Linked DNA regions of Homo sapiens: all the other regions are reported to be linked to region 1. The links are microRNA targets in miRTarBase. Many come from high-throughput screens and were not tested one by one. Region 1 holds a microRNA gene; each other region holds the end of a gene's coding sequence.

Region 1 (4,085 bases):
TGCGGTCACATCTTGGGCTCAAGTGATCCTCCCATCCCAGCCTCCCTAGTAGCTGGGACTACAGGTGCATGCCACCACACCTGGCTGATCTGTTTGTATTTTGTACAGGCGGGGTTCACCATGTTGCCCAGGTTGGCTGCGAACTCCTGGGCTCAAGCAGTCTGCCCATCTTGGCCTCGCAAAGTGCTGGGATTGTAGGTATGGGCCACTGCACACAGCCAAAAAATTTGTTCTCAATGTTTTGATAATTTGTGTAAAGGCTGGTTGGTTCTAGCTTTGTCTAGTATTCATACACGATGGGCTTGCCTAGTCATGAAGGACTCAGAAATTCAAATTCTCTAATTTACCTGAGATCGGGGATACATATATGAGAATAGTTTTTTTTAAAAATGTCAGTTTCTTAAATTCGTTGACTAGATTATTGAACAAAAAATGAGAAAGCAAGTGAAAATGGCGTTAAACTTCAAGCTGATAAGAGCGATGTGAAAACTTAAGAAACAAAGTATAGGCTGTGCAGTCTTATGGGAGTCTAAAGTTCATTGCAGAGAGGGGTCTTTTATTCTGGTGCAGTGGGTTTATTTTTGGAAGCAGGTAGCTGCTTTTTTGTGACAAGATCTTGGTCTTTTGGCCCAGGCTGGAGTGTGGTGGTGCCATTGTAGCTTAATGTAACCTTGAAGTCTCCTTTGCTCAAGCCAAGCTCCCACCTTAGCCTCCTGAGTAGCTGGGACTCCCTGCGGGCGCATGTTACCAGAGGGCCCAGCTACTATAATTTTATTTTTTTTTAAAGACCAGGTCTGTCTATGTTGCTAAGGCTGTTTTCAAACTCCCAGGCTCAAGTGATCCTCCCACCTCAGCCTCCCAAAGTACTAGGATTACAGGTGTGAGCCACCACACCTGGGTGCAAATGGCTTCTGTAACTTATTGTATTATGAATACATTCCCTACTCCCCACCGTGTCACCCTTTTTGAGACTTCAAGATGTTTTCCTGCAGTATACATTTTGGCACACACCATATGTCTGTTCACTCTTTTTTCCCCAACTCATTTGTTTTTGTAAAAAACCTACTAGAAATTCTAGGCTGGGTGCGGTGGCACACGCCTGTAATCCTAGTAATTTGGGAGGCCAAGGCTGGTGGAAGCTTGAGCTCAGGAGTTCAAGACCAGCCTGGGCAACATAGTGAAACCCCATCTCTACAAATACAAAAAAGTAGCTCAGTGCAGTGGTGTGTGCCTGTAGTCCCAGCTGCTCAGGAGGCTGAGGCGGGAGGATCACTTGAGCCCAGGAGGTCAAGGCTGCAGTGAACCAGGATCACACCACTGCACTGGGTGACAGAACAAGACCCTGTCTCAAAAATAAATAAATAAATAAATAAATAAATAAATAAATAAATAAATAAAAATAGGAATTCTAAAGCCAGAAAGTCATGATGGAAATGTTGTTTATGGAGTACTTAGAGCTCTGTGGGTCAAACCTTAGTGCAACAAAAAACATTGCACCCTTAACCTCCAAATAAGAAAGGGCATTCTTAGTTACATCCAGTGGCTTGCTCATTTGATACAGCAAGATGAAAATGTTTAGATGCATTCTTGGAGCTTATTTTAATATTAAATGATGGCAACATATTTGGTCATTGTGCACCATTGGCAGCTTTGGGCCCACCTATGGAAATGGAAAATAATGCCAAGTTAATATGGTATTCCACTTCCCTGCCTCCCTTATTCACAGTTTTGTTTTCTGCATTTTAGTTACCCACGGTCAATGGGGTCTGCAAATATTAAATGGAAAATTTCAGAAATAACTCATAATTAAATTCTGTACTGTCCTCAGTAGTGTGATGAAATCTTGCACTGTCCTGCTCAGACGTGAATCATCCCTTTGTCCAGCATCTCTACGCTGTGGATGCCTCCTGCCATTAGTCACTTAGTAGCTGTCTTGATTATCAGATAGACTGTTGCAGTTTTGCAGTATTTGTGTTCAAGTCACCCTGATTTTACTTAGTAAGGGCCCCCAAAGTACAGGAGTAGTGATCCTAGCAATATGGATACACCAGAGAGGCTTCTGCCATAGAGTGCTTCCTTTACACGAAAAGTTGAAAGTTCTCAATGAGGAAAGAAAAAAATAATAGACTGAGATTGCTAAGACCTACTGTAAGCAGGTCTAATAAGAATTTCTTTTTCTTCACAATTATGAAAGAAAAGAAATTGTGAAGAAAGAAATTCTTACTAGTTTTGCTGTCAAATCTCAATCTGTAAAAGTGATAGTTATATCGTGTAATAAGTGCTTAGTTAATTTGGAAAAGGCATTACACTGGTGGGTGGAAGACATGAGCAGAGACAAGTTCCACTTGATGGCAACATACTGTGCCAGAAAGCATTGAGCCTATTTGAAGACTCAGCAAGGGATCCCCAGAGACGAATGACACCAAACCATTTACTCTAAGTCAGGGACTGTAACACATATTCAGGAATACAGAAGGTCAGTAGTAAGTAGCCCAATGCCGACCTTCCGATGCATGTGTCACTCACCTCACTTCATCTCATTACATAGGCATTGTATTGTCTCACACCTTCACAAGAAGGGCGAGTACAGCACAGTGAGATATTCTGAGAGACCATGGTCATGTAACTTTTATTATAGCATATTGTTATAATTGTTATATCTTACTGCTAGTTTTTGTTAATCTCTTACTGTGCTTGATTTATATAATAAACTTTATCATAGGTATGTATGTATATGAAAAAACATAGTTTCGGGCATTCCTGGGGATCTTGAAACGTATCCCCTTGGATAAGGCAGGGGACTGCTGTAAGGCTCTTTATTGGGTCTTCAGTATTTTCTCATTTTATGCATTTGGAAGGAAATCTGCTCTAAGCCTATTGAGTGGCATTTAAAAAACTAATTATGGTGTCTTAACTATCTGAAGTCAACTTAGACCACTCTATTGTATCTTACTGATAATTTTTGGATGCCAAATTTTTATTGGTGCTGCTGATCAGTACTGAAATAAATCGTCATTCAGGAGTTTTGTTCACTATAAAGAGAATCAAAATAGTAAGTGGTTAGCCATTTACATTATTGATAATTATACTTTTAGAAGGTAAGTAAAATACAAAACACCAAAATGCATCTTTTGAGATACTGTAACTTTTACCTGCTGAAATTATCTAAATTGTTTTTTTGCTCCAGCAAGTGAGTTCACAGGAACAAATCTCTTTATATGAAAAATGTCGGGCTGGGTGCAGTAGCTCACGCCTGTAATCCCAGCACTTTGGGAGGTTGAGGCAGGGGGATCACCTGAGGTTGGGAGTTTGAGACCAGCCTGACCAACATGGAGAAACCCCGTCTCTACTAAAAAAAAAAATACAAAATTACACCGGTGTGGTGGCGCAAGCCTGTAATTCCAGCTACTTGGGAGGCTGAGGCAGGAGAATTGCTCACACCTGGGATGTGAAGGTTGTGGTGAGCCGAGATCATGCCATTGCACTCCAGCCTGGGCAACAAGACAGAAACTCCATCTCAAAAAAAAAAAAAAAAATTCACCTGATCTTAACAAACATATATATTTTTTATTTCTGCTATTAGTAATTTAAGTTTTTTAGGGGTGGACATTTTGTCAGGCTATGTTAACACATCACATTTAGGGACAGTACCATGTGTTTTGTGAGCTCTCCTACAACTTTGGAAACCTAAAACTCACAGGAAAGTTAAGATTCTCAGAAGGGAAGGTTAGTAACGGCTTTCAGTTAGAGATGATGTGCTTTCTCCCCTAAATTTATGAAAATATTAATGTTTATGAGGAGTAGGATTTTTAAATTCCTTTATTATGGAAAATTGTAAACACATACAAAAAAAGAATATTGTAATAAATCCCCATGTCCCTTTTATTCATCCTTAACAGTTATCAACTCATGAGCAAGCTGTTTAATTGTGAAGCAGATTTCAGACAGCATATCATTACATCTGTAAATATATATTTTTAATATTATTTTTATTTCTTTTCTTTTTTTTTTTTTGAGACGGAGTTTCACTCTTGTTGCCCAGGCTGGAATGCAATGGCACGATCTCGACTCACCGCAACCCCCGC
Region 2 (4,073 bases), not on the chromosome of region 1:
TTTATTCACTGAGTGTGCTGCTGATTATTACATGTCTGTGGAAGCTTCTGGAGCCAGTGGTGGAGAGGCAGATGTGAATAATCAGTCGAGATGTATATTGATATGACATTATGAACCAACAGAGGAAATCCATTAACGACATCATTTGCTCTTCCTCTGGGGCTCAATTTATAATTATTTATGTTCCAAACAAAACAAAACAAACCCTTTTTGCTCTTTTAGTACTCGGGAGAGCCTGGCTTCCAACACATCAAGCATTGTTGAAAGTAACCGTCGTCAGAACCCCGCTTTGAGCCCGGCCCATGGTGGAGCTGGTCCAGCCTTCAACTTCCGAGCGAGCGCGGAGCCCCCGACAAATGAAGCTGAGAAGCTACAGAAACCTTCCAACTGCTTGCAAGCTTCTGTTACTAGCGTGTGATTGTCCTTCTGCCTCAGATCTTCTGTCTCATTCGATACAGCAAAGTTTACGACACTGGGACTGATGTTTACATCTTTGGAAAGACAAGCATCTCAACCACAGTTTTTGTGTTTACTTAAACTGTGCTGCTAAGTAGGGCTAGGGCAAAAAAACAAAAAATCTTTATTTCAGAGTATTGCTTTTCACATTTATGGCTCTGTAGCAACTGAGTAACAGTAGGGGTGATATGTATACTTTTGCTTCACTAATTGTATCTGAGCACACATAGGAAAGTCTAGACACTGTAAGTGTAATACGCATTTTCAATGTCATGCAGTTGCCAATTCCATTTTAAAATGCCACAGATGCGTGTTGCTCCCAGTCTGTGGTTAAACGGTGCCACAGAACTGATCCTTGACACTTCCAAAAAAAAAAAAACAAAACAAAACAAAAAAAATTTAAAAAAAAAAAACAAAAAACAAAACTAAGCTACCACGAAATGTCAAATGCAAGGGTCCACCTTGAGGGAAATAGATGCCAAACTAACTAGAAGGGACCCCGGCCCTTTGTGTGTGAATTGTTTATGCACCAGTCATTTTTCACTGTGAGTTTTCGTGACACTATTTTGCAGGAGCCCATGGAAGTGTGTGAGAAGGGGTCGCAATGGAGATCACTGGGAGTGAATGTTTTCAGGGTTTTGTTTTGAAGTGTCACAGATGCTTGTCTGATTTTTTTAACCTTCCGTGATCACAAACAGGAATATAGGCCTTTGAATCTGAAGTGGACAAAGGAAAGCAATTTCCAGTCTGGCTGGGGCACAGCATTAGGTGATTGAAAAGGTGATGTGGACTTGTAAAAGGTGTTACTCAAATATTGAAGGAAGAGAATTTCCTCCTTGTGATACTTAGGATGACCCTATCTTACTCTAATAGATACAATAATTAGTTTGTTTAAAAGCAAAATGTTCTTTGTGATACAAATGAAGAGTAGGGCCTGAGGATGTTATTCTTTCTAATGGAAGGACATAAATCTATTTTATGTAGTTTTAAATAGAATGCCTAAATTAGGCTGTGGGAGATAATTTTTAGTGGTTGTAGGAAAGAGCAAATTTAGGGAGTGTTGAACTTCAGGCCTTTTATTCCTGGGAAGATATGTATAGAGAAAACTTTTAAAATAATTTTTGATTAGAAATATACATGTGCCCATGTAATAAACAACAGAATGTGCTCATTCTGCTAGTGCGGTATAATCCGAATTTGTACTCCCCTAAAATTTATCAGAATAACAATTATGCATACATGAACTATGCCAGAGTAATGTTTACAGATACTTTGTAACCAATTTCAGGAGGCGTTTTTAGCTGGATGTGTAGTTAATTAGACCAACTTATTTCCAAATGGTTTGTTAACATTTTGCTTTGGTTTACAATGTCATGTTGAACACAAAGAAGACCCAGCAGCAAAGGGATGACCAATAATTTCATCTTATAGCAAGGAGACATTCCAACGTTCCCATGTTTTATTTTCTGAGAACAGTGGGACAGATCTGTAGTAATGGAATATTATTTGCAAAAGGGTTACATATGACACAAGTAAGTGTTCTGACATAAAGTTTTATTTAGTTCAGTGGCATGTGCTGTTGGGAGCCATACACCATAAAATATATATATCCCAAAATAAATCTAGAATATTTTCACCTCCAATTTCAGTAATTGGCATATGATTTGTGAGACGCATCTGTTTTTGTATGAGGTTTAATCACTAGCAATCTGTTTAAAGAATCCAGTCCTATACACAGTTGGACTCATTCTTGAAACCTTTAAATGCTCCCTCATAGTTTTTCAGTTATTTGGAAGTTGCATTGGGTCAAACTGAACTCCTTGAGTTTGGTGTAAATTCCTTTTTTCTGCTTATTATAGTGAAACTTCAGCATGTTTCTTAGTAAACTCCCATACCATTGAAATGCTTAAGCCAGTTGGCTTTCAGTCTCATGCCTTATTTCCTCCAAGGCATGCCTCAACGCATTGTTTGTCTCATTGCTTAAATATGTCCAGAAGGAATGATCATGTATCTAATAGACTACATAGTTGGTTCCCTTGGGGAGTTATATATCATACAGTTACTAAATATTTGTCTAAATTCATTTTTTCCAAAAACCTGCTCTCAAATTTTTCTTCTACTCTCAGTTCATAAATAATATAACCATTGAAACAACACATCAGCCTCTAGCTGATCCTCTGAAAGTAGCCATTGAAATAATCGAATACTGTGTGAACAGGAAAGGAAAGCGTTACCTTTAAGAGAAGCTTTAAAATAGGAATTTATTGATATTTCACAAGATATAGGTTTACAGAAGACATTATTCAAATAAATATGTACACTATTTGCCTGATGCTATGGGGTACATAATTTTTTAAAAACTCCCTTAGACCAGCAGCCATTAGTGTAGAAATGATGGACTTTAAAGGTGATACCATGTAAGCAGATGTTGCATATAAAAATATTCCTGCCTGAATCTGATCGAGATTCTTGAATGGGGGAGGAGTGGCAGCCGGCAGCACATTGCAAATGTCATTCGAGGTCACGGTGAGGCTCTCGGTCCCGGAACAGTGGGGGCCTCGCCAGGCGTTGCCAGTATCCCTTTCCTCCTGTAAAATCATAGCTTTGTGTTACACGACTGCTTATCCAGTCTTAGGGTTTAGCAGCTGAAAGGTTTACAAAACTGAATCTGGTTGAATCTCTGTGAAAGGGTCAACACATCTGTCGGCATTTTGCACACTTATGTATTATTATGATACAACATATTACTTTATGGTAATTTTTATTTTTACATATAACTACCTCCATAAATTTGATGAAATGGCAGCCGTGTGTTAAAGTGTATCGTTCAGAAGAGCAAAGTTGAACACTTCCTTCAACATTAGGGCATGGCGTGCTGTGTGTGTCAGTGATTGCCTCTGTGGACTCATGACTTTCCATCGCCATGGCTTTCTCTTACGCCGCTGTTTGGCTTTCAGATGTAATCCTGTCTTCTCCTCTCTTCCCCACGAAAGCGCACTCGATTTTGTTAGGAATGAACGGAAGTTTAAAAATTCTTGTGCCCACCCCCGCCCTCCACCCATTCCTGTTAAAAGTTCTCTGGCGAAGAGCCAATGGGTGAACGTAATTGAAAGAGCTATTTACTCTTTTGGAAATCTGATTTGAAGTCTAAGTTTTCAGTAACAGAAGACACACAAGCAATGTGGACTGCCAAGCTTGAAGCACTTCGGGCTCTGCCTTCACTCGCATGCTACCATGTCGAGCCCAAACTCCACTTTAATTAAAAGAGCTGTGCTGTGAATTCCACAACTTCTGTTAAATAATTTGTATTCCATTATATATATTTTGCACATCTCAGGGGACCATAATGAACATATGAAAGGGGGGGGGGTGCCATCAAATAGAGAAAACAAATAGAAGAGGTGAATGGAGACTAGCTGGATAAAAATAACAAATTACTTCTTCTCTGATGTTGTGAAGGTCAGGTTCAGGAAGCATCAATTCACAGTTAATCCGGAGTAACAATGATCTGAACACCAGCTGTTCCCAGGTCCCTCTTTTTCATAGCCCAACCAGCATCTAAAATGTAAATTTAAATTACATTGCAGTCACCATGGGGAGAAGAAACCTGTTCAGTG
Region 3 (4,091 bases), not on the chromosome of region 1:
AAATAATTTATATAGATAAATTATTTTGTAGGATATATAGACATTGGCCCCCTCAAGAAAGTGGAGCTTCAATCCTCACCCTTTGAGTGTGAGCTGCACTTAGCAACATAGGAGGAAGGAAAAGTAACTTCACTGTAGAGAAACCTGGCAAACACTTCCTCTGTCAGCTGGTCAAGGTTGATATCATGAGTGATAAGGCATGTTGATAGCATATACCCTTGATGTGATGTGATGAGAATACCTCTTCATTCCTGTGGTCTTCCTCTTGAAAACCTATAACCCCAGTCTGAGAAAAAAATCAGACAAACCCAAACTGAAGGACATTTTATTTGTAGATACCTGACCAGTACTCCTCAGAACTGTCCAGGTCATCAAAAATAAAGCATCACAGGTCAGAGGAGTGTAAGGAAACATGACCACTAAATGTAGTATGGTGTCCTGGATGGGATCCTGGAGTAGGCAAAGACATTAGAGAAAAACTAGAGAATCCAGGCCGGGTGCAGTGGTTCATGCCTGTAATCCCAGCACTTTGGGAGGCCGAGGAGGGCGGATCACAAGGTCAGGAGATCGAGACCATCCTGGCTAATACGGTGAAACCCGGTCTCTACTAAAAAAATACAAAAAATTAGCCAGGTGTGGTGACGGGCGCCTGTAGTCCCAGCTACTCGGGAGGCTGAGGCAGGAGAATGGCGTGAACCCCGGAGGCAGAGCTTGCAGTGAGCCGAGATCATGCCACTGCACTCCAGCCTGGGCGACAGAGCAAGACTCCGTCTCAAAAAAAAAAAAAAAAAAAAAAAAAAAACTGGAGAATCCAAATAAAATGTGGGGTTTAGTTAATAGTCATGTACTAAGTAAGGTTGGTTCCTTAGTTGTGATGAATGCATCACAACAATACAGTAATAAAACAGGGAAATAGCCACTGCAATGGCTCACACTTGTAATCCCAGCACTGTAGGAAGCCCACGCAGGAGGAATGCTTGAGCCTGGGAGTTTGAGACCAGCCTGGGCAACATAATAAGACCCCGTCCTCTACAAAATTTTTTTAAAAAAATAGCCAGGTGTAGTGGCATGCACCTGCAGTTCCAGCTTCTCAGCTAGTTGGGGTGAGAGGATCACTGGAGTCCAGGAGTTAAAGGCTGCAGTGAGCTGTGATCACCCAACTGTACTCCAACCTGGGTGAGAGAGCAAGACCTTGTCAAAATAAAATAAAATAAAATAAAATAAAATAAAATAAAATAAAATAAAATAAAATAAAGAGGAAACTAAATGAAGGGGACACAGGAACTTTCTGTACTATCTTTGTAACTTTTTCTGTAATTCTATAACTACTCTAAAATAAAAAGTTAATTTAAAATATAAAAACATTTTGTTTCATTTTATAATGGCTGGGTAGATTTTCAGATCTTTAGTGAAGTAGGTCCCAGATGTCTAGAGGCAGATTGCAGAGATGGGCAGGCACCCATCCAAACCCAACTGAGTCTAGTGCACTGGCTCATGCCTATAATCCCAGCAATTTCGGAGGCTGAGGCAGGAGGATCACTTGAGCCCAGGAGTTCGAGGCTATAGTGAGCTATGATTGCACTACTGCATTCCAACCTGGGCAACATAGTGAGATCTTGTCTCTTAAAAAAAAAATTGAAAGTTAATGTTGCTTAATCTTTTACTGGCTCGTTTTGGCCCTCTCACAGAGTCACTGGCCTCAGTCTTCTCCTTTTCCCCCATTTAAGCACTTATTTTACAAGACCATTTTTTTCAGTTTAATGAGACACAAACTCTCAACTTTTTATTTAAAACAGAAATGCAGTAGTAAGCTAAACCTTTTGCCATTCATAGGGAAACAAATATCAGTAATCCTCTTTGTTCTAAACAAAAATTCATAATTATTTATACATTTTAAAATATTATATTGTTTCAAATATTGTTAGTGGGGCAATAAATCATAAAGAGATACAACCAGTCGAAATTAGACTTTTAAAGAATTACTCTCAAAGACATTGCAACAACTCCAAAGTCCAGGGATCTTATAAGACTAATTTATTAGTAACAACATTTACAAAGATAGCTTTTTAATGCTGAGTTGTATCTGATTTAATGCAGTCAGAAAGAAAAAAGAAACATTTATCTCATTTTGCTGATCTGTCAGATTTTGCTTAAGTTAGGAGAGCCTGCAATTTCAAGCCCAGATAACTGGAATTCCATGAATAAACACAGAAAGACAGGAGAAAGGCAAGGAAGTTCAAAAATCACAGTCTGGGGGGAAATCAGTAGAGTAAGATTACCAATAAGTGAAATATTGGTCATATGATTTCTTAGTTTCCATTAGTTATGCAAATATTTTACTGTTAATATTTAGATTAGTGTTTTAGAACGTTTTGTAGAGACTGAAAAGCAAATAAATAATTGCATTAGCATTGTTAAGTATCAGTGTTTTCTGTTTGACAAATAATCGTACAGCTGTGTTCTCAGGCTGCAATAACAAAACACCAGAGACTGAGAAGCTGAAACAACAGAAATTTGTTTCTCACAGTCTGGAGGCTGGAAGTCCAAGACAGAGTCCAAGACTCTCGCCAGCAGCGAGAGTTTGATTGTGAGGCTTCTCCTCTTGGCTTGTAGGTGGCTGCCATCTCTCTGTGTGCTCCCATGCCCTCTTGTTTGCATGCACAGGGAGGGAGGGAACAAGCTCTCTGGGGTCTCTCCCTATAAGGACACCAACCTTAGCAGATCAGAGCCCCACCATGACTTCATGTAACCTTAATTACTTCCTTAGCAGCCCCAGCTCCACAGTGCAGGTTGGGGCTTCAACACGGGAATTTGGGGGTGAAGGGTGGGACACAAACATTCAGTCCATAACAATGGCCCACCAAACCATGAAAGTAAATAGAAAAAAAATCACAGTTCAAGAATAACATAAAACTTAACTAGGTGTGTTATAGAGCAATGCATAGAACTAAGCTGAGAAGTTAAAACATAAACTCATTGATTTTTAAAGACAATCTTTCCCAAGTCTGGTTCACCTTAGGGCTGATACACACCTTCAGAACCAGATTTTGGTCTCTAATATCATCTTCCACTGAAAGCCAGGGCAAACAGGTTTATGTTCATTTCATCTTGGCCTATAATTTCTCCTTAAAGTGACCATTAATATTCACTATCACAATTAAGGCTTGGTCTGGGCCATTCTGAGAACAAGCTCTGGAGACCACAATTTTAAAGGATTAAATAATCATAACGGTATTCTTTGTCCTGACAAAATTATTAATCTGACAGTGACTGAATTATCTTCGGACTCTCCCAAGCCCTAAATGAATACAGCAAAGATAAATGTCAAGAATTCAGGAAACAATTGCTTCTGCTACGGCCAGTAAGCTCCTAACAGACCATGCTTCTGCAGAAAACGATTCTGGACAAATTTTTAAAAGCAACAAACTGCATGAAGTCACTTAAAAAAAGAAGCCCAGCCTTGGAAGAAAGAAAGGCCACAGGCTGAGTTTCTTATTTTTATGGCTTTTACCCAAAATGCAAGACACAGATCGGCATTGTGCAGGACAGCTAAAGTTCCTTTAGAAAACCACCATCTTTCTGGCTGGAAGAGTCAGGGGTCAGAATGGGGGGCAGCCACCGCTGCTGAAAGGGTTGGGGAAGGAACCCCTGAAAGGAGAGCCAGAAATGGGGGAGCTCCAAACTCTTTGTGTCAGCTCCGTCCAAATCTCTGACTTGTGAACTAAAAAGAAAGGTTTCTACCATCAGCAGACTGTCACCCATAGACATTTACATAGCATTTTGATTTGGAGTTCTTCCTAATGGCCACCCCACGGAAAAATATACAGGTGTTGTTTTGCCCTGGAAGCCAGACAGATCAGAACATTGGGTAAGATAGCTGGGTCAGCTGTCCTTGGATGGATCCCAAACACTATGCTCCTTTCCAGGCCTGAGAATCGCCGAACACTGTCCAACACAATGTGATCACCCAACATATCACATGCATCACTGAGCTGCACCACCCTTTTCTTCCTCATTGCTTTCAAGAGCTCATACTTATAGTGCTCCACTTCTTTTGCGGTGCTGACAAGCACAGCAACATCCTTTGGAGA
Region 4 (4,091 bases), not on the chromosome of region 1:
TGGTGAGGATTTTAGGAGCCCGCCTGATGATTTTAGAAGTCACCGCCCTTTTGTGAATTTTGGTCGCCCAGAAGGTGGCAAGTTTGATTTTGGAAAGCATAATATGGGAAGTTTTCCTGAGGGGAGATTTATGCCTGATCCAAAAATAAATTGTGGTTCAGGTAGAGTAACTCCTATTAAGATAATGAATCTTCCATTTAAAGCTAATGTGAATGAAATTTTAGACTTTTTCCATGGTTACAGAATCATACCTGATTCAGTTTCGATACAGTATAATGAGCAAGGCTTACCTACAGGGGAAGCCATTGTTGCTATGATAAACTATAATGAAGCTATGGCTGCTATTAAAGATCTAAATGATAGGCCAGTTGGGCCCCGAAAAGTTAAGTTAACTTTGCTGTAGAGAGAGAGCATTTCTAAATTCAGTTATCTTCCTTGCAGTATTGATGGAGTAAAATACATTTGTTTTAAAAAAGTGTTTTTTTTTTAAATTATCTAATGAAATATTTTATTTTTGACCTGTGAATAGAACAAATGTAAATAGTAGAATGTGAATCTGGTTTTCTTTTGCTTGCAAATTGCCATTCTTTTTTTTTTTCAAATTTAAAATTACACATGCTGTTTTTTTCTTTGATGGGGAGAAAGAACTCATTCCCTGAGTTCATTCATTTTTGTTGATGTCATCGGTAATCTTCAAGACTTATTGAAGTAGAGTTGTATTTGGGGAAGATACATTTTATATTCACTTTTTTTTTTCTTTCTGTAGTCTACCTCTTTTACTCAAACTGTATAAGGAAATAGTGACTGATTGTTCAGGTTTGGCATTTTCATTGCTACCTGCCTGCAGAATTAATGCCCTCTTCCTTGTCTAAGATATTACTGTGTTAAGTGTCCTGTTAATTATAAATAGTTCAAAATGGACAGACTGTCAACTTGAAATTTACTTATGTAAAAAGCTTAGGTGATTCTTAGGGTTTCCATGTTCATAACTTTACAAAGCTTTATAAAAATAAAATTGCAACTTAATAGAGCTAATTAACTTGTATTTGTATAAAAAGAAAAAAGAATTGCAGCTCGATATTGTGAAGTTTTTCAATAACTTCATTAAACCATATTTATGATGGGAGGGACCAGACATTCTATAGTAATAATGTATAGTGCTGTGTATAATTCCATGGTTTCTTCAACATCTTATCAACCAAGTAAAATTAATACAAGATACGCAAAAGATAGTAAAATAAGAATCTAATTATAGGTGCAAGGGGACTCAGGCTTATGCTGGAAGAATCTGACAAGTGGTATAGTTTGTTTTTCTAGGAAGAATTTACTGATGAGTCACATAACTTGCATGTAATATTAGGTTCTCATTTTTTAGCTTCGAAACTGTGTCCATGCAAAGACTCTATAACTGTTAAGACTTGTGTGGTTGAATTTTGACTTCTTTGATATTCAGCATTTAGTGCATACATTTTGCAACTAGGGAATTTGATTTTCTATACCCACAATAATATTTATGGCTAACATTTATTAGGCACTTACTATGTGCTAGGCACTGTAAGCACTTTACATGCATAATCTCGGTATTCCCTGTGAGTACAGGGTTAATTATTTACCTCTATTTCACAAATGAGATAATGAAGTGGGATGAAGTGCGAGGTTAAGCAACTTGCTTGAAGTCATAGGTAGTAAATCGTGGGGCCAATTTTAACCCAGACAGACCACTGACTCCAGTTCATGCTTTTGCTGCCTCACTTTTTTAAGTGGTATTTTTAATTAGGAAGACCATGCTAAAGATACTTTCAAGGATAAATGATTATTTTCTCACTTCAATTGTTGGTTTAAAATTAGCATAAATAGGTAAAACCAGCATGCTCAAACACTGAGCTCAAACATTAACATTACTAATAAAAAAAAAAAGAGTGACTTTAAAAGTTTCTTTCTATCCAGGGTTTCTCTTGGGATACTCATATGGTATATTACTGGCTTATATTTCAAAATTATTTTATTCAACATGATTGACTTTGGCCTTTTATAATTTACATAAAACATAATTTTCCTCAGTTCTGTAATCCAGATTTTCCCCATTGAGTAAATAATACAATTAAATTTACATATGGTAATTTAGACATTTAATAGGATATTGCATAGGTAGAATACTTTGTCAGTACTTAGTTACTACCTATATGTATTTTTGTGTTACTTTTCAGTGATTTAAAGAAATCTAACAGAAATCTGCTTAAATTTGTTTTAAATAGTGAATATCCTGCTTGCTATGGAATGAATAAACAGGTAAATTTGATATGAAAAAGCACCTCAGTATGATTCTTTAAAGTATAAGCTTGTAAGTAGCTAGGATAATGTTAAATTGATTGTTTGGAATATCCAAACCAAGCACAATGAAGAAAGTAGAAATGATATTTTTAATTGAGCAAAGATTGTATAGATGGTTCATTTGGTCACCCATTTTGAATAATATATGGAAAGTTAAAAAATGCTTCTCAGATACAAAGGAATAAAGCTAAGATGAAGCTTAACGTGAGGGATTACTTACTGTGGAATTGCATTTCAAACTGGGCTGAGGTGGGATGGTGGTGGTAGATAAGAGGCCAGCTAGAGTAAACATAAGCTTTGTAGTTTTATTATTTTAAGAGTCAGAGTCTTGTTCTGCTGGCCAGGCTGGAGTGCAGTGGTCTGATAATGGTTCACTGCAGCTTCTAACTCCTGGGCTCAAGCTGTCTTCCTGCCTCAGCCTCCTGAGAGCTGGGACTACAGGTGTGTGCCACCTTGTCTGGCTAAATTTTTTATTATTTGTAGAGACAGAGTCTCACTGTGTTGCCCAGGCTGTTCTCAAATTTCTGGCCTCAAGCAATCCTCACTCCTTGGTCTCCCAGAATGTGTTGGGATTACAGGTGTGAGCCACTGTGCCCAGCCTTGTATTTTGATTTTTAAATTAATTTATATGAATATTTCCTTTTACCCTATAATGTATCAGGGCTTAATATTTTTAAACTTCATTATAAAAAGTTGATTACAGAAAGTGGTATCTTCTAGTTGGGAGCCATCTTTGCACATCTCTCTCCAACTCTGCCTTTAGTGATATGTCAATAACAAATTGGCCATGGCAGGAGTATTTTACACCATGGAAAGTGATAAATGCAGCAAATCAAGGAATTCCCCTCCTGTTGTCCCCTCAGAAAGCCAGCTTCCCAGCACCTCATCAATTTCAAATATAAAAAAAGAATAGTAAATTTTCATGTACACATCACTCAGCTTCAGTAATTGTCGTCTCATAGCCAGTTTTTCCTCTCCTATCCTCAAGGTATACCAGGTACACTGGAGGTGTATTCTCTAGCCTGATACCCAGTGGCATTTGTCTTAAAGCCAAACATTTTTGTCTAGAAATTATCTAAAAAAATGTAGATCATGTCTAGAAAGTCAATCCCACAACCAAGAGATAGGTAAAAATCATGTTAGGAGTGCATTTCTATTAATTTACTGAGATCACTGTTAAGAGCAGTGATTCTTGATCCATATATCACCTGTTAAGTAGTGACCTTGCTGCCTCTGTTTTTGCAGTAAATATTAGCTGTTGTTTATTGAGCTGTATTAGATACTATATGATGTATAATTATGTATGAATTAACTATCATTTAATTCTGATAATCCTAGTAAATGTACTACAGGTTGAGTATTCCTAATCTGGTAATCTGAAATTTCACATGCTCCGAAAATCACAAACTTTTTGAGTGCCAACATGATGCTCAAAGAAAATGCTCATTGCAGCATTTAAGATTTCAGATTTTTGGGTTAGGAATGTTGAACTGGTATAATGCAAATACTCCAAAATCTGAAGAAATCCAAAGTCTTAAATACTTCTGGTCCCAAGCACTTCAGATAAAGGATACTCAATTTGTATTCCTATTTTGGAGATAAGAGATGGAGACTTACAGGCTGGGTTGGTTGGATTGGTTGCCTGTTTTTTGTTGTTGTTGTAGTGGAAGCTAGGAATGGTTTTTCACATTTTTTAAGTGTACTTAAGTCTTACATGGTTACATAGTTACCTGTATAATAGTCTTGAATTTGCCTAAACC
Region 5 (4,091 bases), not on the chromosome of region 1:
CGAAGGCCACACTCTGCCTGGGTCTCAGCCTCGTCCACGTGCCCCCAGCTGCAGAGTGACGGCGTCTGCACCTCTGTCAGTGCGAAGGGAGCACAGACGCCACTGGGTAGAGAAGGAAGCTAAGCACAGAGCTTGCCCTCCCACGCCAGCCGGCGTGCTGACCACACGCAGCTATGGAGAGGTGAGGTTATAACCACGACACGAGCAGATAACACTTTAGTCCTGTTTCCATGGGCTTCTCGCAAGAGCATCAGCGAGGATAATGATCTCTCCACTGAGGAGGAGGTGGGCGAACTAGGATCCTAAATTCATACTTTCAGCAATTCCCTATTTTCAAGACTTTCATTTCTATAAATTGTATTGATTCACCTTTTCTTACTCAAAAAAAGCCCCAAAACCCAAACCAAACCAAGAGGCGGTCTATAAAAAGTCACACTGCCTTTTCCACTAAGTAAGTAAAAAAATCAGTGGATAGACTTAGCTTTGAACAGCTGTGGCTAGCATCTGGCGCAGCCAGCGCTCCAGGCGGGCTGGATGGAGATGGCCAGCCCCTCTGCAGTCAGCGTCCCTGTGTGTGGGCGGCCCTGACCTAACGGGAACCCGATAACGTCAGAGCCAGCTTGCTCAACACCATGGCTAAATTTAGTTTCATGATGAGCAATAAAATTCACATGTTCTTTATTTAGTCCATATGATACACCGTTTTTTAGAGTTTTTGAAAATTAGATAAAAGAGCATATTAAATGGCAAGTGTATGAAGTTTCTCTTCATAAACAATGTCAAAACAAAAAGTTTTGAATTACAAAATGTTAAAAAATATGTCGGTACTTAACATTTCACTAATGCATAAAGTTACAGATATTTTCTAAAGAAAAATAATTGTGCCACTTACCTATATTTGCTGTTTCTATGAACTTTTTTATTCTGTACATAGGACATTTTGTACAAAATATGAAGTCTACATTTTTATTACTTATTACCATAAAACAAAGATACAATGTATGTACAATATTAAAAGGAAGCCATACTAAAGCCACACTAAAAAGACACTTGGAATAGTGACATTTCTGATGTACAGATACATTTTGGAAAGAGTGAAGATGCCAAACGCAGAACTTTATGAAGAAAAACAGTCACCGGTTTATTTTCAATGTAGTACTTTTGAAATCAGTTTGGTACAGAATAAACAGTCTCTATACAATGATATGTAAGCTGACAATTAGCACAGGAGTCCGAGTACTAACTAGGGAAACTTTAGGAGGCCAAAATATTAAGTAATACTCTTGCCAAAGAAAATTAGTTTCTCTGAAAACTTTTATTTTTCTTTTTGGTGAGTGTTTGTCTTCAATAAAGAGCAGAAAGAAAACCTAGACAAAAAGATGTTCTTACACACTGAGCTTTACACAGTCACCCAAACATTGATATTTTGCTTTTTCCCGAGGGCAAAAAGAGAGTCTTCCCAGAAACCTCTCTCACAAACATACTGAACATCCAAAATCAAGGATATTTGAGAATCTATCAGCTAAAGACGGAAGTTCAAACAATGGTATATCAAAATACATAAGACGCTGCTTTATACAATAAAAAGCACCCTTTTTCCCTCAAAAGGAGAAGGCATCTAAACTGTTTTTTTTAATGATAGTTTTCATAATGGTAAAATGGAGAGATACTTGTCAAGTTTCTCAGGAAGTATTCATCTCACAAAGCGGACTTGTCCACTTTTAGCTGGGGCAATCTTCGCATTTCATACCTGCACTTGCTCTTACCACAAGAAGTCCCCTCCCCCCAGGTGATTTTCCTCCAAGACACGAGGACAGAAGCATTGCCAGTGGCTTGAAGTGACAGCAGTGGGCAGGAGGTACCAGAGCTGCACAAGGAGCAGTGTCTGCTTCTCACTATCTTTGAAAGGATACCCGAGACCTCGATGAAAAAACAGATCCTAAAATAAGCCACATTTTGTCTTTTATGCCTCAAGACACTTAACATTAAGTTATATAATCTTATGCCAGAGATGAAAGAAACTAGATCACGTGTTTAGAATAGCAGTACACATCTCAAGTAGCTTTCAAGCAGGATAAATAAGTCAAAATACTGGCCACCCTGAGAGAAATAAAGAATAGACAAAGCACTAAGTTTAAAGATTTTTCTCCTTGTGCTATTCCATCTAAAACAAAAGCTCAGTACATGCAAGGAACTCTGTGGAATATATAGCAGCATGTGAAGACCGATGAAAACTCAGACACTGTATTTTCCTTACAAGGTGTTGATAACGTGAGCTCTTTTCAACAGAAAGAGCTCCACTAAACGTCATCCTCGCTGGTGCCTCCTCCAAGCTCTCAGAACAGCACTGCAGCCTTCAGTGAAGGCAGCGGCAGTGCCGGCCCCGTGCAATGCTGTTGTGTTACTTTATGCTTAAAGGCGCTGCAGTTTGCATTAGGCTAAGAACTGGCTTAACTCAAAATGATTTTGCTCTAACTTTCCATAAAATGTGGAATTCTTAGAGACTATAATTTTATTAATTCAAGAGCCTTGTTGAAGGGCAACAATGTTTAAGTTGACGGAAACGAAATCTGCAAATAAAAATATTAACACATAATTTTAAAACTCCAATTTCTGTCAAGGTAGACAGAGCAAGCTCTTTTAAGATAAATTTCAGAGCAATCTCTTTTAAAATAAATCTCTTCTACAGGCTTACTCCTGGAATCCTGGAGTACCACAGACTTGGAAATATGGCTTTAGGTACACACAAGAGAAGGAGACACGGTGTTCATGTCACTCATCAAAGTGAAGAGACCCCTTAGAAAATACCAGCGGCTGAGGATTGTCATTTGCCCAGTACGTTGCGTGAGAACTCGAAAGCAAAGAGCCATTTCACTGAGATTGAAAAACAAACAAAACGAGAACTGCTGGCGTAACAATCACGTGGAAACCATTTCAAAGGCTGTAAAGTCTTAAAAAATAGGTCCTATTTTTTAAAGCGTTCCTTTGATTTGGAAAACACTGATGTTATCACAGAACCACCTATGTTAAAAGATCCTAAGTTCCATTTGGGAGAACATGAAGATGAAGGGCAGGGTGCTTTCCTATCGCTCTGACTTTGTGAAATAGTCTGACTTGGACTACGCTGGGGTGGCGGCGACACTGCGAGGACACCGTCGTCAACCCGCGGCTCTGCCAGCGGGCTCTGGGAAGTCACCATTGTTTGAACTCCTAATCTCGCGCTGAGGCGGACGCACGTTATTGCCTACGGAACGGGGTCCAAGAAAGCTTTGAGTGTAACTGATTGGTATGGCACAGGAAGTATGTATTTTCTACAGAATCCGGAAAAGAACTGGCGGGCCCGGCCCCGACGCGGCGCCCCGGAGGCTAGCGGCCGTCCTGGGAGGCCAGCTCATCGGCCCTGCAGTGAGCTTCCAAGGCTTTCTTGGTGTGGGGGTCCTGAGGCAGCTCGGACTTGCGGCGTGCAAGAGGACGGTCCTTCTTCGGATCTTTCTGTGCCTGGAATTAGAAATGCAATGGCGTTGGCTACAAACTAAGCTATCTGAAAAGCAAGCTTACTTCTGAGGTGGAAGTCAAAGGATAACCGCGAGGCACGTGTGCCTCACCCACTCGCTGGCGGCACCCTGGCCACAGGGAAACGGCGTAGGTCTTATCATGGAAATTTGCCAAAAATGTCTTGCTACTAAAAATCGTGACTCGTTTGAGGACCTGTGTGTTCAATACTGGCATTCTGGTCTTCTGAAATGTGCAGTGCTTGTACAAAGGACTCAGTACCTCTAATTTGCAGAATTCATGCATTTTAGTAAATTTCCTAAGTAACCTCCTATTTCATAAATGTCATTAAAGCCATTTCATGGGCATGTCCCCTACAGAAGCATTTCAAGAAGCAGAAATTTCTGGCTGGGTGCGGTGGCTCATGCCTGTAATCCCAGCACTTTGGGAGGCCGAGGCGGACGGATCACGAGGTCAAGAGGTCAAGATCAGCCTGACCAACATAGTGAAACCCCGTCTCTACTAAAAATACAAAAATCAGATGGGTGTAGTGGCGCGCGCCTGTAATCCCAGCTACTTGAAAGGCTGGGGCAGGAGAA
Region 6 (4,091 bases), not on the chromosome of region 1:
TGTTTCCAAGATACAGAATTACTTCATCAAAAGGCACATTAACACATTTTTATTGTAGTGTTAATAAATACCATTAAAATGTATTAAAATATGTACATATGGTTTTATGTTAATTGAAAACATCTTTAAACATTAGGAACGTAGTGAGCTCTGGTTGGTGGTAGGTTTTTGTGGTGCTGCCAGCCCTCTGGGTTCTCAGTCCCCGCTGCCAGATTCGACCCACGCTCTGGACTCCATCCTGTCCTGCCCCGGGCTCTCTTTTTTCCTGTTGCTGGTTATGAGTGAAAGTCCCGGAGGGAGGGATCTAATGGTTTTACAGTTTGTTCCCTCTGGGGCACTGCTCCTGATGGAATGATGAGTGAGGGAGAGGCAGCGTGTGGCTCTGCTCAGCCTCCTGTTTCTGTCGTTATGGGTTCCAGGAGACAGGGCCAGAAGAGAACCAGACAGAGATGGAGTAAGTGCCAGAGCGTTGGCGTGCTGTAGTGCAGACACTCAGCCTCCCCGTTCTGTTTGTGTGACTGACAAAACCCACACCTGTGGGGCACAGCCTGTCATTTGACCACAAGCCCTGAGGCGGGGGGAGGCTGGGTGGGCCGCCTGCACTGACGGCGCCATCCGCCTCCTGCCTTGCAGTGACCTGACCAACGGTGCAGATGGGATGCTGGCCACAAGCTCCAATGGGTCTCAGTACAGCGGCTCCAGGGTGGAGACTCCGGTGTCCTACGTCGGGGAGGACGACGAGGAGGACGATGACTTCAACGAGAATGACGAGGACGACTGACGTCCTCCCCACTTCAGATTCGGCTTCAGGAAAACGTTTAGCGAAAAGAAACTTTTTTTTTAATGTGGGTTTTCTGTTTCCTTTTGGCCTACTCCCAAGAAGATATTGGTAAGCTATTGAATTTAGATATGCACCTCTGATAAGCAAGGATTGTTTCCCGTAGGATTAGGACGTGCTGTGGATGTGTGTTTTGATACCAGTGTGCTGATGCAGAGCGTTTATTTACTTGTTAGGATTTTGTGTTTTCATTTGCTATTTTTCTTTAAGTGCAGAGTTCATTTTTGCCCCTGAAAAGTTTTTGCTGAGTTTGCTGAAGAAATTGTATTTCAACCACATCCATGAAAATAAAACACCTCCTGTTGTGGATGGTGAGCCCCTGATGCCGCTTATTTGCCGTGAGTTTGGACGGCACCCCTGCTGGCGGATAGCAAGACTCTGTGGAGTTTGTTCAGTGGTACGGTGTCCAAGCAAACAGCAGAATGCAACTTTCTAAACAGCCCCAAGCAAACAGCAGAATTCAACTTTTTAAACAATAAACACCATCAACCTTATTGACTTTATTGTCCCTTAAATTATATTGACTGTTGTGATTCCATCAAGTTTGTACACTCTTTTCTCTCCCTGTTTTGCAGCAACAAATTGCGAAGTGCTTTTGTTTGTTTGTTTTCGTTTGGTTAAAGCTTATTGCCATGCTGGTGCGGCTATGGAGACTGTCTGGAAGGCTTGGAATGGTTTATTGCTTATGGTAAAATTTGCCTGATTTCTTACAGGCAGCGTTTGGAAACCTTTTATTATATAGTTGTTTACATACTTATAAGTCTATCATTTAAAGACATGTACTGAAACAAATGTATTTGTTTCATAAGCATCTTCCTGTAATCTATTATAAAATTGAAATTAAATATAGAGAATGTTTTAACAATTTTTTAACTCAAAATTTGTCAATCATTTTTAATAGTTCTTTTTTTATAAAAAGAAAAAGGAATTTAAGGACAGGCAGTAGTCTCTTTTAAAATTTATTCACAAAACCCATTAACTGCACAGTTGCTATTAGCTGCCTGTTCTAAAACGATAGTCTTTTTATTGAAACACAAATAAACTTTTCTGTAATATTTTATGGTATATAAAGAGACTTTAATTGTTTGACTTGTTTAACTTGGCACTGTTAGTTTTTATTAATAAAACGCGCATGGGCATTTTAAACAAGCTGTGTTTCTCTAATTCAGGATTATTATCTAGAAATTTGTCTGTCTTGTTGGTTTTACTTTATACTTGAGTGAGAAAGTAGGTTGTTAGGCCCAGACGCGGTGGGCCCGGGTGGTCCCTGTGGGTGCAAACCCCACCACCACATGTTGTCTGAGGCACATCCTCCGGGAGCCCACCCTGAAAAGGTGGAAGGTGGCCAAGGGTGGAGGTCTTGGTGGACACAGGGCAAAGAGGCACCTTCCTTTTCGGTGCCTGTGGTGCAGAGAAAGATAAGCCAAGTTCCTTGGCCTTTTTTCACAATGAAAATTGAGACAAAATTTAAAAGTTTGACTTTGAGAACAAGAATAAGATTGAGAGGATTCTGGGAAGATGGTGGAATAGGGAGCACCAGGAATCTGGCTGCCCAGGTAGATGTCTACCTCGCGGGCAGGATCTGCCTGATGCAGCTGTTCTGTAACTACGGAATCTACTGAAGGCTTAAAGCTTTCAAGGGAGGCTTGGTCAGCACATTGCAGTTAATTTTGGTCCATTTCAGCTTTCTACCCCGACCTCTGTTCCTTCATTTTTCTCTTTCCCCTTTTGGGAGCCAGACATTGAAGACTAGGACGTATAAAAACAACTGTGTTGTATATATGGGGCTGCCCAGGGAGAGGCTCAGAAAAGACCCGAGAAGACCTTACGTTTACACCTCAGGCTGAACCATGGCACAGGTACAGCCTAGAGCTGTCAAAAAAGCAATAAACACAGCAATAACAAAAATGGCAAATCCGGGGGAACAGGAGACTTCTTTTCAGAGTTGTACCACAGTAATAGATTCAGATGTCCAGTTTTCAACAAACAGTGACAAGGCATACCAAGAAATGGCAAAGTATGGCCCATTTAAAGGGAAAAAAATAAAAACAAACTGTCCTTGAAAAGGATCTGTTGGCAGGTACACTAGACAAATACTTTTAAATAACTGTGTTAAAGATGCTCACGGAAGCCAAAGAACATGTGCAGAAAGTCAAGAGAATGAAAATAGAACCAAATGCAAGGATCATAATGAGGCAGACAACCTGAAAAACCAACAAGAAATTCTGTAGCTGAAAAGTACAGCAACTGAAATGAAAAATTCATCAGAGTGATTCAAAGGCAGAAGTAGCAAATTTGAAGACAGGACAGTGGAAATAACTGAGTCTGAGGAGCAAAAAGAGAAAAGATTGAAGTGAACAGAGCCTGTGGGCCCTGCAGGACACCATCAGGCTGACCAGTGCACATGTTGTGGGGTCTATGAAGGAGAAGAGAAAGAAAGGGGCAGAGAGAATATTTGAAGATAATAATGGCTGAAAACGCACCAAGTTTAATAAAAGACATGAATATAAACATCCAAGATGCACCATGAACTCCAAGGAAGATAAACTCAGAGATCCACACCGAGACACATTATAATTAAGCTTTCAAAAGACAGAGAAGACCTTGAAAGCAGCAGAGTAGGAGCAATTCATCACATACAAGGGGCCCCCAATAAAATTATCCACAGAGTTTTCCTCAGAAACTGGAGGCCACAAAGTAGTGGGCCAGTATATTCAAACTGCTAAAAGAAAAACAATAAACTACCAAGAATTCTACAACTGACAAAACTGTCCTTCAAAAGTGAGGGCGAAATTAAGACATTCCCAGATAAACAAAAGCTGAGGAAGTGTGCTGCCACTAGACCTGCCCTGCAAGATGTGATCTTATATGCAGGAAATCTGAAAGAATCCACTTAGTTTCAGACACTAGAAAAAAATCTAAACCCATAGCAAGTAGAGGGAAAACAATTTAATAAAAATTAGAGCAGAGCTAAAATCAGAGAACAAAAACAAAGGAGAAAATCAAGAAACCGAAAAGTGTGTTTAGATCAATAAAACCGACAAACCTTTAGTTAGGTATACTAAGAAAGATTGACATTACTAAAATCAGAAATGAAAATGGGGACATTTCTACTGGCTCTACAGAAATAAAAAGGATTATGAGAGAATAATAGGAACAATTGTGTGTCAACATATTTAAAAACCTAGATGAAATGGACAAATTCCTAGAGACAAAACCTACCCAGATTTAATAAAAATAAGTAAAAATCTGA

The links. Region 1 holds the annotated microRNA hsa-miR-3611 (UUGUGAAGAAAGAAAUUCUUA, at 2,203-2,223, shown strand). A microRNA usually pairs through its seed, bases 2 to 8, with sites in the 3' UTR of a target mRNA and lowers its output. Matches are read on the target gene's strand: a 7mer-m8 pairs with bases 2 to 8, a 7mer-A1 pairs with bases 2 to 7 and ends in A, and an 8mer does both.
Region 2: miRTarBase lists STOX2 as a target of hsa-miR-3611. Seed matches in the 3' UTR shown: 7mer-A1 at 2,728-2,734.
Region 3: the mRNA of SLFN11 is a reported target of hsa-miR-3611. Seed matches in the 3' UTR shown: 7mer-A1 at 3,715-3,721.
Region 4: the mRNA of RBM12B is a reported target of hsa-miR-3611. Seed matches in the 3' UTR shown: 7mer-A1 at 1,620-1,626.
Region 5: the mRNA of PPP2R5C is a reported target of hsa-miR-3611. Seed matches in the 3' UTR shown: 7mer-A1 at 3,098-3,104 and 7mer-m8 at 2,217-2,223.
Region 6: the mRNA of TFDP1 is a reported target of hsa-miR-3611. Seed matches in the 3' UTR shown: 7mer-A1 at 1,801-1,807.

Annotation. Positions count from the first base shown.
Region 1 is chr10:35,077,747-35,081,831 of GRCh38, reverse strand. MIR3611 (microRNA 3611) reads left to right here and starts at 2,152; the gene lies at 2,152-2,234. The region is part of intron 1 of CUL2 (cullin 2); the gene reads left to right.
Region 2 is chr4:184,016,867-184,020,939 of GRCh38, forward strand. STOX2 (storkhead box 2) reads left to right here. Exons shown (of 4, transcript NM_020225.3): 4 at 223-4,073. The coding sequence ends at 418. Among named protein-coding and RNA genes, the nearest start is that of STOX2, 110 kb to the left of the region's middle. RefSeq lists an enhancer at 322-821.
Region 3 is chr17:35,348,559-35,352,649 of GRCh38, forward strand. It overlaps SLFN11 (schlafen family member 11), which reads right to left. Exons shown (of 7, transcript NM_001376007.1): 7 at 1,747-4,091. The coding sequence ends at 3,798. Among named protein-coding and RNA genes, the nearest start is that of SLFN11, 23 kb to the right of the region's middle.
Region 4 is chr8:93,729,717-93,733,807 of GRCh38, reverse strand. It overlaps RBM12B (RNA binding motif protein 12B), which reads left to right. Exons shown (of 4, transcript NM_001377960.1): 4 at 1-4,091. The coding sequence ends at 403. It overlaps CIBAR1 (CBY1 interacting BAR domain containing 1), which reads right to left. Exons shown (of 9, transcript NM_145269.5): 9 at 2,281-4,091. Among named protein-coding and RNA genes, the nearest start is that of RBM12B-AS1, 8.3 kb to the left of the region's middle.
Region 5 is chr14:101,924,548-101,928,638 of GRCh38, reverse strand. PPP2R5C (protein phosphatase 2 regulatory subunit B'gamma) reads right to left here. Exons shown (of 16, transcript NM_001352913.2): 16 at 662-3,498. The coding sequence ends at 3,367. Among named protein-coding and RNA genes, the nearest start is that of DYNC1H1, 38 kb to the left of the region's middle. RefSeq lists enhancers at 1-49, 50-550.
Region 6 is chr13:113,639,487-113,643,577 of GRCh38, forward strand. TFDP1 (transcription factor Dp-1) reads left to right here. Exons shown (of 12, transcript NM_007111.5): 12 at 634-1,987. The coding sequence ends at 781. Among named protein-coding and RNA genes, the nearest start is that of ATP4B, 17 kb to the right of the region's middle.